Homo sapiens: one gene and its partners. The protein of the gene in region 1 purifies or fractionates together with the protein of each later gene. This does not show direct contact. Each region holds a gene or a part of one and is shown in the gene's direction. Other genes may lie near its edges.

Evidence for each region. The genes of interacting proteins can lie anywhere in the genome.
Region 2: the proteins of HINT3 (region 1) and UBP1 purify together in Homo sapiens (affinity purification with mass spectrometry; one large-scale study listed by BioGRID and IntAct). This does not show direct contact.
Region 3: the proteins of HINT3 (region 1) and TMEM38B purify together in Homo sapiens (affinity purification with mass spectrometry; one large-scale study listed by BioGRID and IntAct). This does not show direct contact.
Region 4: the proteins of HINT3 (region 1) and EDC3 purify together in Homo sapiens (co-immunoprecipitation; one large-scale study listed by IntAct). This does not show direct contact.

The regions. Positions count from the first base shown.
Region 1 is NC_000006.12:125,959,770-125,963,269, forward strand, and holds part of HINT3 (adenosine 5'-monophosphoramidase HINT3), read left to right. Parts: intron 1-3,500. UniProt on the Homo sapiens protein: Exhibits adenosine 5'-monophosphoramidase activity, hydrolyzing purine nucleotide phosphoramidates with a single phosphate group such as adenosine 5'monophosphoramidate (AMP-NH2) to yield AMP and NH2.
Region 2 is NC_000003.12:33,409,406-33,412,905, reverse strand, and holds part of UBP1 (upstream-binding protein 1), read left to right. Parts: intron 1-78; coding exon 79-184; intron 185-1,218; coding exon 1,219-1,325; intron 1,326-3,304; coding exon 3,305-3,457; intron 3,458-3,500. UniProt on the Homo sapiens protein: Functions as a transcriptional activator in a promoter context-dependent manner. Modulates the placental expression of CYP11A1. Involved in regulation of the alpha-globin gene in erythroid cells.
Region 3 is NC_000009.12:105,701,041-105,704,540, forward strand, and holds part of TMEM38B (trimeric intracellular cation channel type B), read left to right. Parts: exon of another isoform or gene 1-603; intron 604-3,500. UniProt on the Homo sapiens protein: Intracellular monovalent cation channel required for maintenance of rapid intracellular calcium release. Acts as a potassium counter-ion channel that functions in synchronization with calcium release from intracellular stores.
Region 4 is NC_000015.10:74,686,025-74,689,524, reverse strand, and holds part of EDC3 (enhancer of mRNA-decapping protein 3), read left to right. Parts: intron 1-2,345; exon of another isoform or gene 2,346-2,434; intron 2,435-3,500. UniProt on the Homo sapiens protein: Binds single-stranded RNA. Involved in the process of mRNA degradation and in the positive regulation of mRNA decapping. May play a role in spermiogenesis and oogenesis.

The DNA.
Region 1 (3,500 bases):
TAGAGAGAGGTTTAAAATGGCCCGGCGGGTAGAATGTTGACCCTGGGAAAGAGGAAACTCATTCCTCACTCTCTGTGTGCCAGGCACTGTTGGAGGCATGGGGATACAGCCGTAAACAAAACATGCAAAACTCCTTGCCCTTGTGGAGCTCACATTGTCGTTGCAGAAAAGGATAATAAGCAAAACAATAAGTAAAATTTATAGTTTATTAGATGGCAGAAAATAAAGAGGAAGGGGATGCAGTTTTAAAATTTTAGTCAGGAAAATCTGCACTAAGCAGGTGACATTTGGGTTAAGCCTTGAAAAAGGAGAAGGAGCAATTATATGGTTATATGGTTATTTACAAGTAAAAGGTTTGAAGTAGCTCCTGTGAAGGCTAGGAGAGAGAATTAGGGAAACAAGGATTGTTGTACAGCGGGTCACGTGAGGTTGAGGACATTCAATTTCAGGTCATACCAGTCTGCTTAGTTGTGTGATTTTCTTCCCACTTTCCAGCAGCAGCCAAAGGCTGAGATTACACAAGGTAGGCAGTTGTATTGACCCAGGGTTGGGATTTTGCCATGTGGTTGTTATAGAAGTGTAGTGAGACACAGTTAAGAAGTTATGGAGCCGGGCGCAGTGGCAAACGCCTGTAATCCCAGCACTTTGGGAGGCTGAGGCAGGCGGATCACGAGGTCAGGAGTTCGAGACCAGCCTGGCCAATATGGTGAAACCCCATCTCTCCTAAAAATACAAAAATTAGCTGGGTGTGGTGGCAGGCACCTGTAATCCCAGCTACTTGGGAGGCAGAGGGAGGAGAACTGCTTGAATCCAGGAGGTGGAGGTTGCAGTGAGCCAAGATCGCGCCGCTGCACTCCAGCCTGGGTGACAGAGCAAGACTCTCTCTGGGGGGGGGGAAAAAAAAAGAAGTTAGGGCAAGCAAGTGGCTGAAGTGGTAGACCATGGAATATATGCTGAATAGGAGAAGGAAGTAAAGACAGCACCTGACAGGGAGAAAGAATACGCACATCAGTTTTCTGTTTGCAGACCTTTGTTGGACTGACCCATAGAGTCAGAAGGGACCTAGTTCTGCCTCTTCAGTCTCCCTTTATTTTACTAAATATAAAAGTAGGCTAAAGAGAGGTAAAGTGCATTTTTAAACTCAGAGTTCAATATTTAGTAGATCCTTAGAAACTGCTTTTAAATTTTGTATTCTGCAGTTCCAATAATGAAACTAATAGAAAATAGATACTAGTAGCAGTAGAAAGCTTTGTCTGAAAATAGTCATCAAAAGGGGTGGGATCCAGACTTCTATCACATCCAAGGTGAGAATTTTTCTTGGTTAGGAACAAAGTAAACAATATGAAGAGACTGGGGATATTTTCATGGTAGAAATAAGACATGATCAGTACTTTCAACTAATTTACACCCTAAATTAGGGAAACGGGGAATATATACAATAGCCCATTGTCAGTGGAAAAACACAAACTGTGCTTTTTTTGTTTTCCCATTCAACAACAGCAATCAACACAGAACACTTCTGTGACCAAATGTATGGAGGTTTTCCCCCACACACCAAGCAAACAATCAGTTTTGCAGCAGACACCAGCTGGTTGTCCTCCATTTCAATTCTTATACTATCTACCTGATGATAGCATCAGATCCCGCAGGTTGAAGACTCAGTCCCCAAGACTGGCCTGCCCTTCCCACTAGTTGCAAGTCCAGGCCTCTGGAACTTCTGACCGACCAGCTTGAAGTTGGGGATCCCACAAGCTTCTCTTTGGGTTCTAAAGCTTGCTAGAGTGGCTTACAGAACTCAGGGAAACACTTAGGTTTACTGGTTTATTATAGAGGATATACCAAAGGATGCTGCTGAAGAGATGAATAGCCCAAAGTATGGGGAAAAGGGGGCAGAGCTTCCATGTCCTCCTCAGGCGTGTCCTCTCCCAGGAGCCTCCATGAGTTCAGCTATTCAGAAGCTCTCTAAACTCTGTTCTCTGGGGCCTTTTATGGAGTCTTCATTGGATAGGCCTGACTGACAATTCTGTATTAATGTGACTGGACAAAAAGGGTATGATCTAATACTAGTAGACTGAGTGGGGAAACCCAGCAAGGCCTGTCCAGATTCTTCTTGGCCTCTCTGTGAAGCTTTCCTTCCTCCAGGGTATGAGGCAGAATCCCTTCAGAAATGAGGGTTTTATGACCCACAATCAGAAAGGTCAGGGAAGATTATAGTCCTGACTTGGGCAGGTGAGGGGAGGGCAAAAGAAGGGCAGAGAGATTGTGAGAGAGATTCTTTTTCTGAGGCCTGTCTCTGAGGCCTAAAATGCCTCGACATGGTAACAAAAGACTGTAACAAGGGCATTGGGAGTTATAAGCCAGGAATCGTGGATGGAAACCCATATATATATACACATATATATATATATATATATATACACATATATATATATATATATATACACATATATATATATATATATATACACATATATATATATACACACATATATATATATATACATACATATATATATACACATATATATATATATATATCACACATATATATATATATATATCACACACACATAACCGTATAATACAAAACGTAAGATACAGATGCGTGTATAATAGTGCTCCCAAAGGTTGTGTATCTTTTTCAAATTGAATCTAAGATGACTTGATGTACAAGAGCTCACTCATTAAAGGGTAAAGATTAATCTTTTTAAAAAGAATAACTACATAACATAATTCGATGGTTTACATCATACATTCATATACTCATTCAAATATATTCATTGCAAACATTTAGAAACTGTTGGGTTTATATAAAGTGTAATTCAGGTACAAAAGAGAAAAATTTCCATTTGGAAAAATTGGAGTTACCAGCATCATGAGGGGTTAGTCTGGCAAACCTTTCCAGCAAAAGCTGTAGAAGATTCTTCACTCCATAAACCTCCATATGGTGTTGTCTAATTGTATACTGCAGATTTAAAACTAAGCAAAGGCTGAACCATGCATTCTTAATGGGGCAGATGACACTCCCAAAGGGGTGAAAATTGGTTCTTGGTGGTGGTGGGGCAATATCTTACTTTTTCATGTATGAGGCACAGATATACATAAACAGAGAGTGTAGCTGTGGTATTAAAATCTCATGGAGATGGGATTAGAAGAAAAAAAAGTCTTAAAAGGCTCATTAGATAAAAAATAATGAAAAAGTAATTGAGTAACACTGGACTAGAATTTACCTTGCTTGGAACTATACTGAGGAAATAACTCAGTGCCAATTTAACTTGAACGTTGTCCCCTGTTGGAAGATGGTTAGCATCCCCGATCTCGGCGCACCAAATTTTAGCAGTATGCGTGATCAAAAGGGCGTCTATGTATTTCCACCTCTGGTTGAGAAACACTGCTTCAGAGCCACACTCCATCTGCTGGGTCCACGCTGGCAGCTTTTTCCCAACAAAAAATAGATGTCTTGCCATTCTTGACATCCGTGAAGCTAGTGATAAGGTATT
Region 2 (3,500 bases), on another chromosome or scaffold:
ACACATAAGAAGTAGAAATGGTCCTGCATTTTAGCTGGAGCAGTTTAAAAGTACTCATTTTCCGCACTTATTCCACAGAGCATCATAAGGGTTGTATTCCATGACAGACGGCTACAATACACAGAGCATCAGCAACTTGAAGGATGGAAGTGGAATCGCCCAGGAGACAGACTTCTTGATTTAGGTACAGGCAGTGATCAAAAGACCATGGAGATGAGGGTATTGTTTAGCTATAGCCAGTAATGTGTTGTGTTGGCATCATGAATTACTTGTGTGGGGAAAGTTTTGGTGTTTGTGGATTTTGTGTCTTTTTTTTTTTTTTTTGAGACAGAGCCTTGCTCTCTCGCCCAGGATAAGTGCAGTGGCACAGTCTTGGCTCACTGCAACCTCTACCTCCCGTCTTCAAGTGATTTTCCTGCCTTAGCCTCCCAAGTAGCTAGGATTGCAGGTGCGCGCCACCATGCCCCTCTAGGATCTTGTGTCTTGAGAGTTGTTTTCTATATATACATACGCACACACATACATATATATGTATGTATGTATATACATTATTTTCTTTTTATTTTTTTCCCATCCTCGTATTATAAAGAACCGAGAGAGTTGTTTTATAGTTAAAACGTCAAGTAGCTTTTTGGTGCTAAACTAATGTGAACCTGGAATTTTATGATTTTGAAACCGTTTAATTGTAAACCATCTATCTTTTTTTTTTTTTTTTTTTTGAGACGGAGTTTCGCTCTGTTGCCCAGGCTGGAGTGCAGTGGCGCGATCTTGGCTCACTGCAACCTCCGCCTCCTGGGTTCAAGTGATTCTTGTGCCTCAGCCTTTTGAGTAGCTGGGACTACAGGCACGCGCCACTGCGTCTGGCTAATTTTTGTATTTTTAGTAGAGACGGGGTTTCACCATGTTCGCCAGGCTGGTCTCAAACTCCTGACCTCGGGTTATCCACCTGCCTTGGCCTCCCAAAGTGCTGGGATTACGTGAGCCACCACGCTCAGCCTTATCATATTCTTAAAAAAAATGAAATACAAACCATGGTAGGGGAAACGATGATATTCGTTTAGGGTGGGTTTCGATGTTGAAGAAGTTGATCATGGAGACCATTGAAAGACAGAGTTCAAAGCAGTTACAGTTATTTCATTAGAACATAATATAGTAAGTTGTAAGTTTTTTAAGTTATTTAAAGTGGATGTTTTTATGTAACTTCTTTTTAAAACATAGATATTCCAATGTCTGTGGGAATAATTGACACAAGGACGAATCCAAGCCAGTTAAATGCGGTTGAATTTCTGTGGGACCCAGCAAAACGCACCTCTGCTTTCATTCAGGTTTGGATTTTTACATTATTAGAAGCTTACTAACCTAGTTATTTAGGTCATGGTAGGATTGAATTTTTGATACAGTATCATTTCCTTTAAATGTCTATTTATAAACTATGTTGTAGTGTCTTTCTATATACATAGTTAGGTTTAATCTAGTAAGTTCACCCTATTTTAAACTAACATATATGAAGACATTCTATGATATGTAAAGCATTATTCAAATGTTATTTTTACCACTAGTAGTCCCAATAATGAAAATGTCTATTTTTCATGAGATGTATTTCTCTTGAACACAAGCTGCTATTTAAAAGGATACGATTGAAAAAAGATTGAGGTTTTAAAATTCCTTCTAGCATTATTTTTAAAACATTCTAATACTGAAAAATTCAAACCTCTACAAATAGGATAATAATGATGACTAATTGTCCATGTAACCATCACCTGGCTTTAGCAGTTTTTAGTAGTTTCCGCCCCCTTTTAGTTATTCTTGGAGCACTTTTTTTTTTTTTTTTTTGAGATGGAGTTTCATTCTGTCACCCAGGCTGGAATACAGTGGCATGATCTCGGCTCACTGCAATCTCCGCCTCCCAGATTCAAGCTCTTCTCATCTCTCAGCCTCCTGAGTAGCTGGGATTACAGGTGTGCACCACAATGCCTGGCTGATTTTTGTATTTTTAGTAGAGATGGGGGTTTCACCATATTGGCCAGACTGGTCTTGAGCTCCTGACCTCAAGTGATCTACCTGCCTTGTCCTCCTAAAGTGCTGGGATTACAGGTGTGAGCCACTGTGCCCAGCCTGTTAGAGTACTTTAAAGCAAGTTTCAGGCATACCATTTCATCCATAAATATCATGTCTCTAAGAGATGAGTTTTAAAAAGTAACTATAATATCATTATTCTGTGTTTAAAAAAAATAGTGATTCTAATACCCACAATGTTCAAATTTGTATGTGGTGGAATTTAAACTACCAGGTAGGTAATATATAGAAAAGGAAAACCACTTACTTGCTGACCAGCCTTCATAAGCTATGCTTTGCATGAACTGTAAAAAATCATTTGTATTTTGCATTTTGGTATTCTACCAATATTATTCTCCATCAGTTAATCCCTGGGGGCATGGTTTATATCCGTTGAATATTGATGTAAACTCATACTGTTGGTGTTTGTCTATAAGGCAACTAGTTATGTAGTAAATCAAAGTGATACAAGACCTGGCTTTACATATCAGGTTGTGTTGTCATATTGCAGAGATCAGTTTTAATAGTGAGTCATTAGAAGAGGGGGATGTGCAGCAGTCAGAAATGACCAAGGTCTTGCTGTTAACTCTGTGTGAAACCCTAAGGCTGTCATCCAGGGTGGGTATTAGGAGACAGGGCAGGAGTGGTGGAAGATGAGTATTGCCCTCTGGATCCTGAATGGACTTTGAAGAGTTGACCAAAGAGTTTAGATGGATACAGAATAGGATGGGTAGTGGGTTTTCTGGACTGTAAAATTTCCCCAGGCAAAGTATCACAAATTGGCATCTGTAGGAACAGCAGTAAGATAGTTGGCTGGGTAGAATAGGGGTAATGGCAGTAGAGGGCAAACAACAGAAGCTCTAAACAATGAAGTGAAGATTGCTGTGGATTGAACAGGGCTTAGTACCCTGGGTCTGAGATGAGCAGACAGTCCAAGGTGGAGGTGGGCAGTATACATAGGAAGCTACTGTAGTGTTGTACCCCTGATTGGACCCAAGTCCTGCATTAGAGGAGAGGCACTGTGATGGGCAAGAGCTCAGAAAGTCTGGAGAGGCTCAGTTGGATTTGTGAGAGGGAAGCCATATCTTAAAAACAATTAGGTTCATAGATAATTTGGCTAATATGTGTGATGAGTTTATTTTAAAGGATCTTGAATTTATAGTGGTGTCAGGTCACTCAAGAGGGAACAAAATAGAAAAATAACCAGTGGAAGTTCTTTGAATCCATTTCAGCCTGAATCGTTTTATAGGTACACTGCATCAGCACAGAATTTACTCCACGGAAGCACGGAGGTGAAAAGGGAGTGCCCTTTAGGATCCAGGTTGACACCTTTAAGCAGAATGAAAATGGAGAATACACAGATCATCTACACTCAGCTAGCTGCCAAATCAAAGTTTTTAAGGTAAGACAGAGAACCCGGGTTTTCTGTAATTAAGGCTCAGTTT
Region 3 (3,500 bases), on another chromosome or scaffold:
TTCTAAATTTTAATAATTTCAGCCTATTGTTCCCCCAGAGTAGTAACTGCTTTCTGGAACTGAACTCTGTGATAATGTAGTATTTACTTTTTGCCTTTTCAATAACCTAGTTAACAATTTTATACCTACTGAGTTCTATTTAAATAATGGTATTTTCTATCTCCTGACTGGACAGATACCCAGGAGTAGGGTTTGAACTTCCTACTTTCTGGTTTGCATATATCTTATTAAGATAACTAAAGTACTTGCTACTTGCCAGTCTTCAGACCCGGTCAGTGTAATGTCATCAGTGCAGCAGATCAGTGTGATGTGTGATTTCTCAATGTGATCAAAATCTCTGGACTATTTTAGAGAGCAAGAGTGTTAACATAGACCTGAAGCAAGACTGTAATGGTTGAACAAAGCACAAAGTGCTTCTGAGATTTTTTGCAAATTAATAGGAAGAAAAAAGCATTTGCTTCCAAGTTATAAGAATTGTGTTGATTTGACCCCGTAAAAATACTACATCTTGAATACTAGCTGCAATTACAGTCACGACCTTTCTGTGTTTATAATTCATAGCTATTCTCCAAGATCCATCTGTCTTATATTTAGATCAAACAGGTAAGTTAGTGGAATGTGGTAGCTATCACCACCTTTTTGTCTTTGGTTGTGGCACCAATTTCTGTGGTATTGTTTTTGGTTACTTTGTTGGTGAGGAGAGGAATACCTAGGGGCTTCTATGTGATCCATTATACCATATTGCTCCTTATGCCATAAATCAGAGAATCTATATGGGCATTGAGTCAGTTGCCAAGTATGTCTGTTCTAATTACTCATTAAGGAACTGGGGAATAACTGCAAGGTGAGTATGTGGATCTACCTGGCCCACTATGATTCAAACTTGATCTAAGGCTGGGTGCAGTGGCTCACGCCTGTAATCCCAGCACTTTGGGAGGCTGAGGCAGGAGGATCACTTGAGGCCAGAAGTTTGAGACCAGCCTGGCCAACATAGTGAGACCCCATCTCTGAAAAAATTTAAAAAAATTTAAAAACCAAAAAAATCCCCCAAACTTGATCTAAAACTCCTTGAATTGTGTCATAGATAATCTGTAAGCCTCTGTTGCTTACGTGATTATTTTTAAATAATTTTGATGAAAAAGCATACTTGAGGCATATAGGATATGTTGTTCATTTTTCTCTCTTTTTAAAAAGAAGATAAATCTATAAAGGGGAAAGACTAAAGCAAAAGTAAACTAATATGCAATTTAAAAATATGTAATATGTAGAGTTGAAGTTTTAAGAAGGCTAGAACATTCCCATGCTTCTTTCTAGAAGTTATGTCAGCCACTAGCAAGTTGAATGTCAACTGTTTTGAAAATAGCTACAGTGCAAGTAGTTCTTAAAAACAGGGACACACTCTGGAACTAAAATAGACTGAGTACAAGAAAATAAAGAAGTCATGTATGCAGTGCATTAACAAAATATCTTTCTAACTTTTGTTATAACTGTAAGTTCATAAAACTATTAAGCGTAGTCTAATGATTCATTTTGCCAGAATTTGGGATTATTTTGTAGATGTGATTTTAAATGTATTTATGGAAGTACAGTGTGACTTTATTTTTCTTTGTAGCTTTCGTTTCATGATGAAGTTATTTATTTATTTATTTATTTATTTTTGATACAGGGTCTCACTGTGTTGTCTAGGCTGAGTGCATTGGCACTATCATGGCTCACTGCAGCCTGGAACTCCTGGGCTCAGTGATTCTTCCACTTTAGCCTCCTGAGTAGCTGAGACTACAGGTGTGTACTATCAAGCCTGGCTAATTTTTTATATTTTGTGGAGATGGGAGTCTTGCTATGTTGCTCAAGCTGGTCTCGACCTCCTGGACTCAAGCAATCCTCCCAGCTTGGCCTCCCAAACCAAAGTGTTGTGATTGCAGGTGTGAGCCACCATGCCTGGCTGAAAGCATTTTGATATTAAAGTTCATATGTAATTATTTGCATTTTAAACATCTTATATTTGGAATTAGATTTAGGTCTCAATGTGACAAATGTTGCTAAGAATTTTGGGGAAAATAATTCTATTGATAGCGTATTTCAAACATCTTAAGGTAGGACAGAGAAATTTCTTTTTTCTCTTCTAAATGCCAGTACATTAAAATAAAATAATTTGAGTTGGAAGCCAGGTGTGGTGGCTCATGCCTGTAATCCCAGCACTTTGGGAGGCTGAGGCGGGTGAATCACTTGAGGCCAGGAGTTCCAGACCAGCGTGGCCAACATGGTGGAACTCTGTCTCTACTAAAAATACAAAAATTATTTCCAATTTCATCCATGTCTCTACAAAGGACATGAACTCATCATTTTTTATGGCTGCATAGTATTCCATGGTGTATATGTGCCACATTTTCTTAATCCAGTCTGTCATTGTTGGACATTTGGGTTGGTTCCAAGTCTTTGCTGTTGTGAATAATGCCGCAATAAACATACGTGTGCATGTGTCTTTATAGCTGCATGATTTATAGTCCTTTGGGTATATACCCAGTAATGGGATGGCTGGGTCAAATGGTATTTCCAGTTCTAGATCCCTGAGTAATCGCCACACTGACTTCCACAATGGTTGAACTAGTTTACAGTCCCACCAACAGTGTAAAAGTGTTCCTATTTCTCCACATCCTCTCCAGCACCTGTTGTTTCCTGACTTTTTAATGATTGCCATTCTAAGTGGTGTGAGATGGTATCTCATTGTGGTTTTGATTTGCATTTCTCTGATGGCCAGCGATGATGAGCATTTTTTCATGTGTTTTTTGGCTGCATAGATGTCTTCTTTTGAGAAGTGTCTGTTCATGTCCTTCGCCCACTTTTTGATGGGGTTGTTTGTTTTTTTCTTGTAAATTTGTTTGAGTTCATTGTAGATTCTGATGAAACTGGAAATCATCATTCTCAGTAAACTATCGCAAGAACAAAAAACCAAACACCGCATATTCTCACTCATAGGTGGGAATTGAACAATGAGATCACATGGACACAGAAAGGGGAATATCACACTCTGGGGACTGTTGTGGGGTAGGGGGAGGGGGGAGGGATAGCATCAGGCGATATACCTAATGCTAGATGACGAGTTAGTGGGTTCAGTGCGCCAGCATGGCACATGTATACATATGTAACTAACCTGCACAATGTGCACATGTACCCTAAAACTTAAAGTATAAAAAAAAAATACAAAAATTAGCCTGGTGTGGTGGCGCGTGCCTATAATCCCAGCTACTTGGGAGGCTGAGGCATGAGACGTGCTTGAACTCAGGATGCTGAGGTTGCTGTGAGCCGAGATCACTCCACTGCACTCCAGCCTTGGCAACAGAGCGAGACCCTGTCTCAAAATAAATAAATAAGTAATTAAGTAAATAAATAAATATAGTTTGAGTTAGAGACATTGTTCATATCTAGAATGTTTTATTGGCCTTTTTTTTGGGTGTTTTTTTGACTTTGACATTTAAAAAATATAAGCCAGTTGTTGTTGT
Region 4 (3,500 bases), on another chromosome or scaffold:
AAGAAATGGAGGGAGAAGGAAGACAAATAAGACTAAATGAACTTTGGTAGCAAGTTCTTGACTGAATAGTAATTCACAACATCTCTGAATTCAGTAGTCATTACAATTTTAGGAATAATTTATTGGGAGAATAACAGTATCAATGAAGCAAGAGTAAATAAGAAGTATGTTTAAGAAAATACCAAAACCATTGCACCCCACCAGAATGAGTAAGTTGAAGAGAACAATAGTACCAAGTTTTGGCAAGATGAGGAGCAGAAAGAACTCACGTATGGTGGGTTGTATAAATGTAGATGGTAATACAAAATGGTACAACCACTTTGGAAAACTGTTCAGTGGTTCCTAATAAAGTCATAAATATAACATGACTTCCTGTGTTATATGCCCAGTAGAAATGGATGTATTTGTCCATCGCAGAAATATACTGTATACAGTTTAAGAATATTATTTGTAATAAGTCAGAACTAGAAATAACCCAACTATGTATCAGCAGTAGAATGGATAAATACATTGAGGCATGCTTACAGAAAACAGCACAGCTATGAGAAAGAATAAACTTCTGATACATGCAACAATGGGGATGAATCTCACAAATGTACTTTTTTTTTTTTTTTTTTTGAGACAGCATCTCGCTCTGTCACCCATACTGGAGTGCAGTAGCAGGATCTTGGCTCACTGCAACCTCCGCCTCCCCAGTTCAAGCGATTCTTGTGCCTCAGCCTCCTGAGTAGCTGGGATTACAGGCATGTGCCACCACGCCCAGCTAATTTTTTGTATTTTTAGTAGAGACAGGGTTTTGCCATGTTGGCTAGATTGGTATTGAACTCTTGACCTCAAGTGATCCACCCGCCGTGGCCTCCCAAAGTGCTGGGATTACAGGCATGAGCCACCATGCCTGGCCTCACAGATGTACTTTTGAGCAAAAGAAGACAAACACTCTGAAAGAGAACCTTTATGATTCTGTTTATGTGAAGCTCAAAATCAGGCTCAAATAATCTTTCATGATAGATGTCAGAATAATAACTACCTGTAGGAGGACACAATGGAGCCTTTTGAGGTGTTGGAAATAGTCTGTCTTGTTTTGAGTGGTGGTCACATGGGTGAATTGATATGTAAAATTTCAGGGAGGTGTACACTTAAAATATGTAGACTGACTTACTGTATATGTTATACCTTGATAGAAAAGTAGAAAATAAAAGACAAGATTGGTTCCTTGTAGCTCCTGTATCTCCTGTACTTCTTTTGACGTGGAGGTGTTAGCTGTATAATTGATGGAGCCCCTTCCCTAGTCCGATTAGGAACCCAGTTGATGGGCACTGTACTTGTTTTAGATTTACTGTTTTCTGTAAATAGCATAATTTTCTTTATAGAATAAACCTGTTTGAGGAGTTTTGAATAATGCTATTTTACCAAGGGAAGTTTCTGAGGAAAGGGAAGTTTGTTACACATTCAGTGGTTATATTTTTAAAAGTTTCTATTAATATTAACTACATAGAAGAACACTTATAAACGAGTATCCACATTTTCAAAGTGTTAAAAATTCTATTCAGTTACTACTACCATAATATAAACTTGAATGCACAACATCAGTGTCTTAAAGATATATGTTAAATAAAACAGTAAAAGCCTTTTCATATCTGGTTAATTTCTGGTGCTTTTTATTCTGCATCTATCTAAGCATCTGAGTAGAATTATGATGGATTATAAATGATAGGAAAGGAAACTCATGCTTTTGTGACATTAGGCAAAGGTTGATCAGGAAGGGAAAAGAAGCCTAAAATGTGTGTATTTTGTGCTTTTTTACCATCATCATTATTGTTGAAATTGTGTTGCATTGAAAATTTACCCAAGGGCCAGGCACAGTGGCTCATGCCTGTAATCCTAGTGCAGAGGCTGAGGTGAGCAGATCACCAGAAGGCAGGAGTTCGAGATCAGTCTGGCCAACATGGTGAAACCCCATCTCTACTAAAAATACAAAAATTAGCTGGGTGTGGTGGCGGGCGCCTGTAGTCCCAGCTACTCAGGAGGCTGAGGAAGGAGAATTGCCTGATTGAACCTGGGAGGCAGAAGTTGCAGTGAGCCAAGATTGCGCCACTGCACTCTAGCCTGGGCGACAGAGCAAGGCTCTGTTTCATTCTATAATAAATGTAACAAAAAAAAGCCTGTATGAGCCTGCTAATTCATTGTTCTTTTAATCTTCGGTTCTGTCCGCATAGTTTTATGATACTGGCTCAGTTAGATCACTAGAGAACTATCTAGAGTTTGATTAATCCCTAGAGCTGGACTCTTTCAGACTTAGTGTTTCTAATGGGGCATACTGTTTTTTGTTTTTTTTTTTGAGACAGGGTCTTGCTGTGTTGCCCAGCCTGGTCTTGAATTCCTGGACTCAAGTGATGCTCCTGCCTTGGCTTCCCAAACTCCTGGAATTACAACTGTGAGCCACTGCACCCAGCCAGGAGTGCTTTATTTTTATTTATTTTTTATTTTTTTCTAGACGGAGTCTTGCTCTGTTGCCCAGGCTGGAGTGCAGTGGTGCGGTGTCGGCTCACTGCAGGCTCCGCCTCTTGGGTTCAAGCAGTTATCCTGTCAGCCTCCTGAGTAGCTGGGATTACAGGTGCATGCCACCATGCCGTCCACGTCGGCCTCCCAAAGTGCTGGGATTATAGGCGTGAGCCATTGCGGCTGGCCTGGAGGAGTGCTGTATATGCTTTTTTGCCCCTTTCCCTTCATTTATGTATTTATTTTGAGACAAAGTCTTGCTCTTGTTAGCAGGCTGGAGTGCAGTGGCGCAATTTCTGCTCACTGTATCCTCTGCGTCTTGGGTTCAAGTGGTTTTCCCACCTCAGCCTCCTAAATAGCTGGGATTACAGGCACCCACCACCACACCTGGCTAATTTTTGTATTTTTAGTAGAGATGGGGTTTCACCATGTTGGCCAGGCTGGTCTCAAACTCCTCAGGTGATCCACCTGCCTCGGCCTCTGAAAGTGCTGGGATTATAGGAGTGAGCCACCGTGGCTGGCCTATTTAATTTTTTTTGAGATGGAGTCTTGTTCTTGTTGCCCAGGCTGGAGTGCAATGGTGTGATCTCAGCTCACTGCAACCTTCGCCTCCCAATTTCAAGTGACTCCCCTGCCTCAGCCTCCCAAGTAGCTGGGATTACAGGCATGCACCACCATGCCCGGCTAATTTTTTTTTTTTGAGACCGAGTCTTGTTCTCGTTGCCCAGGCTGGAGTGCAATGGCACGATCTCAGCCCACTGCATCCTCCGCCTCCCGGGTTCAAGCGATTCTCCTGCTTCAGCCTCCTGAGTAACTGGGATTACAGGAACATGCCACCGCATTTGGCTAATTTTTGTATTTTTAGTAGAGATGGGGTTTCACCTTGTTGGTCAGGCTGGTCTCGAACTCCTGACCTTGTGATCCACCTGCCTCAGCCTTCCAAAGTGCTGGGATTACAGGCGTGAGCCACTGCGCCCGGCCAATTTTGTATTTTTAGTAGA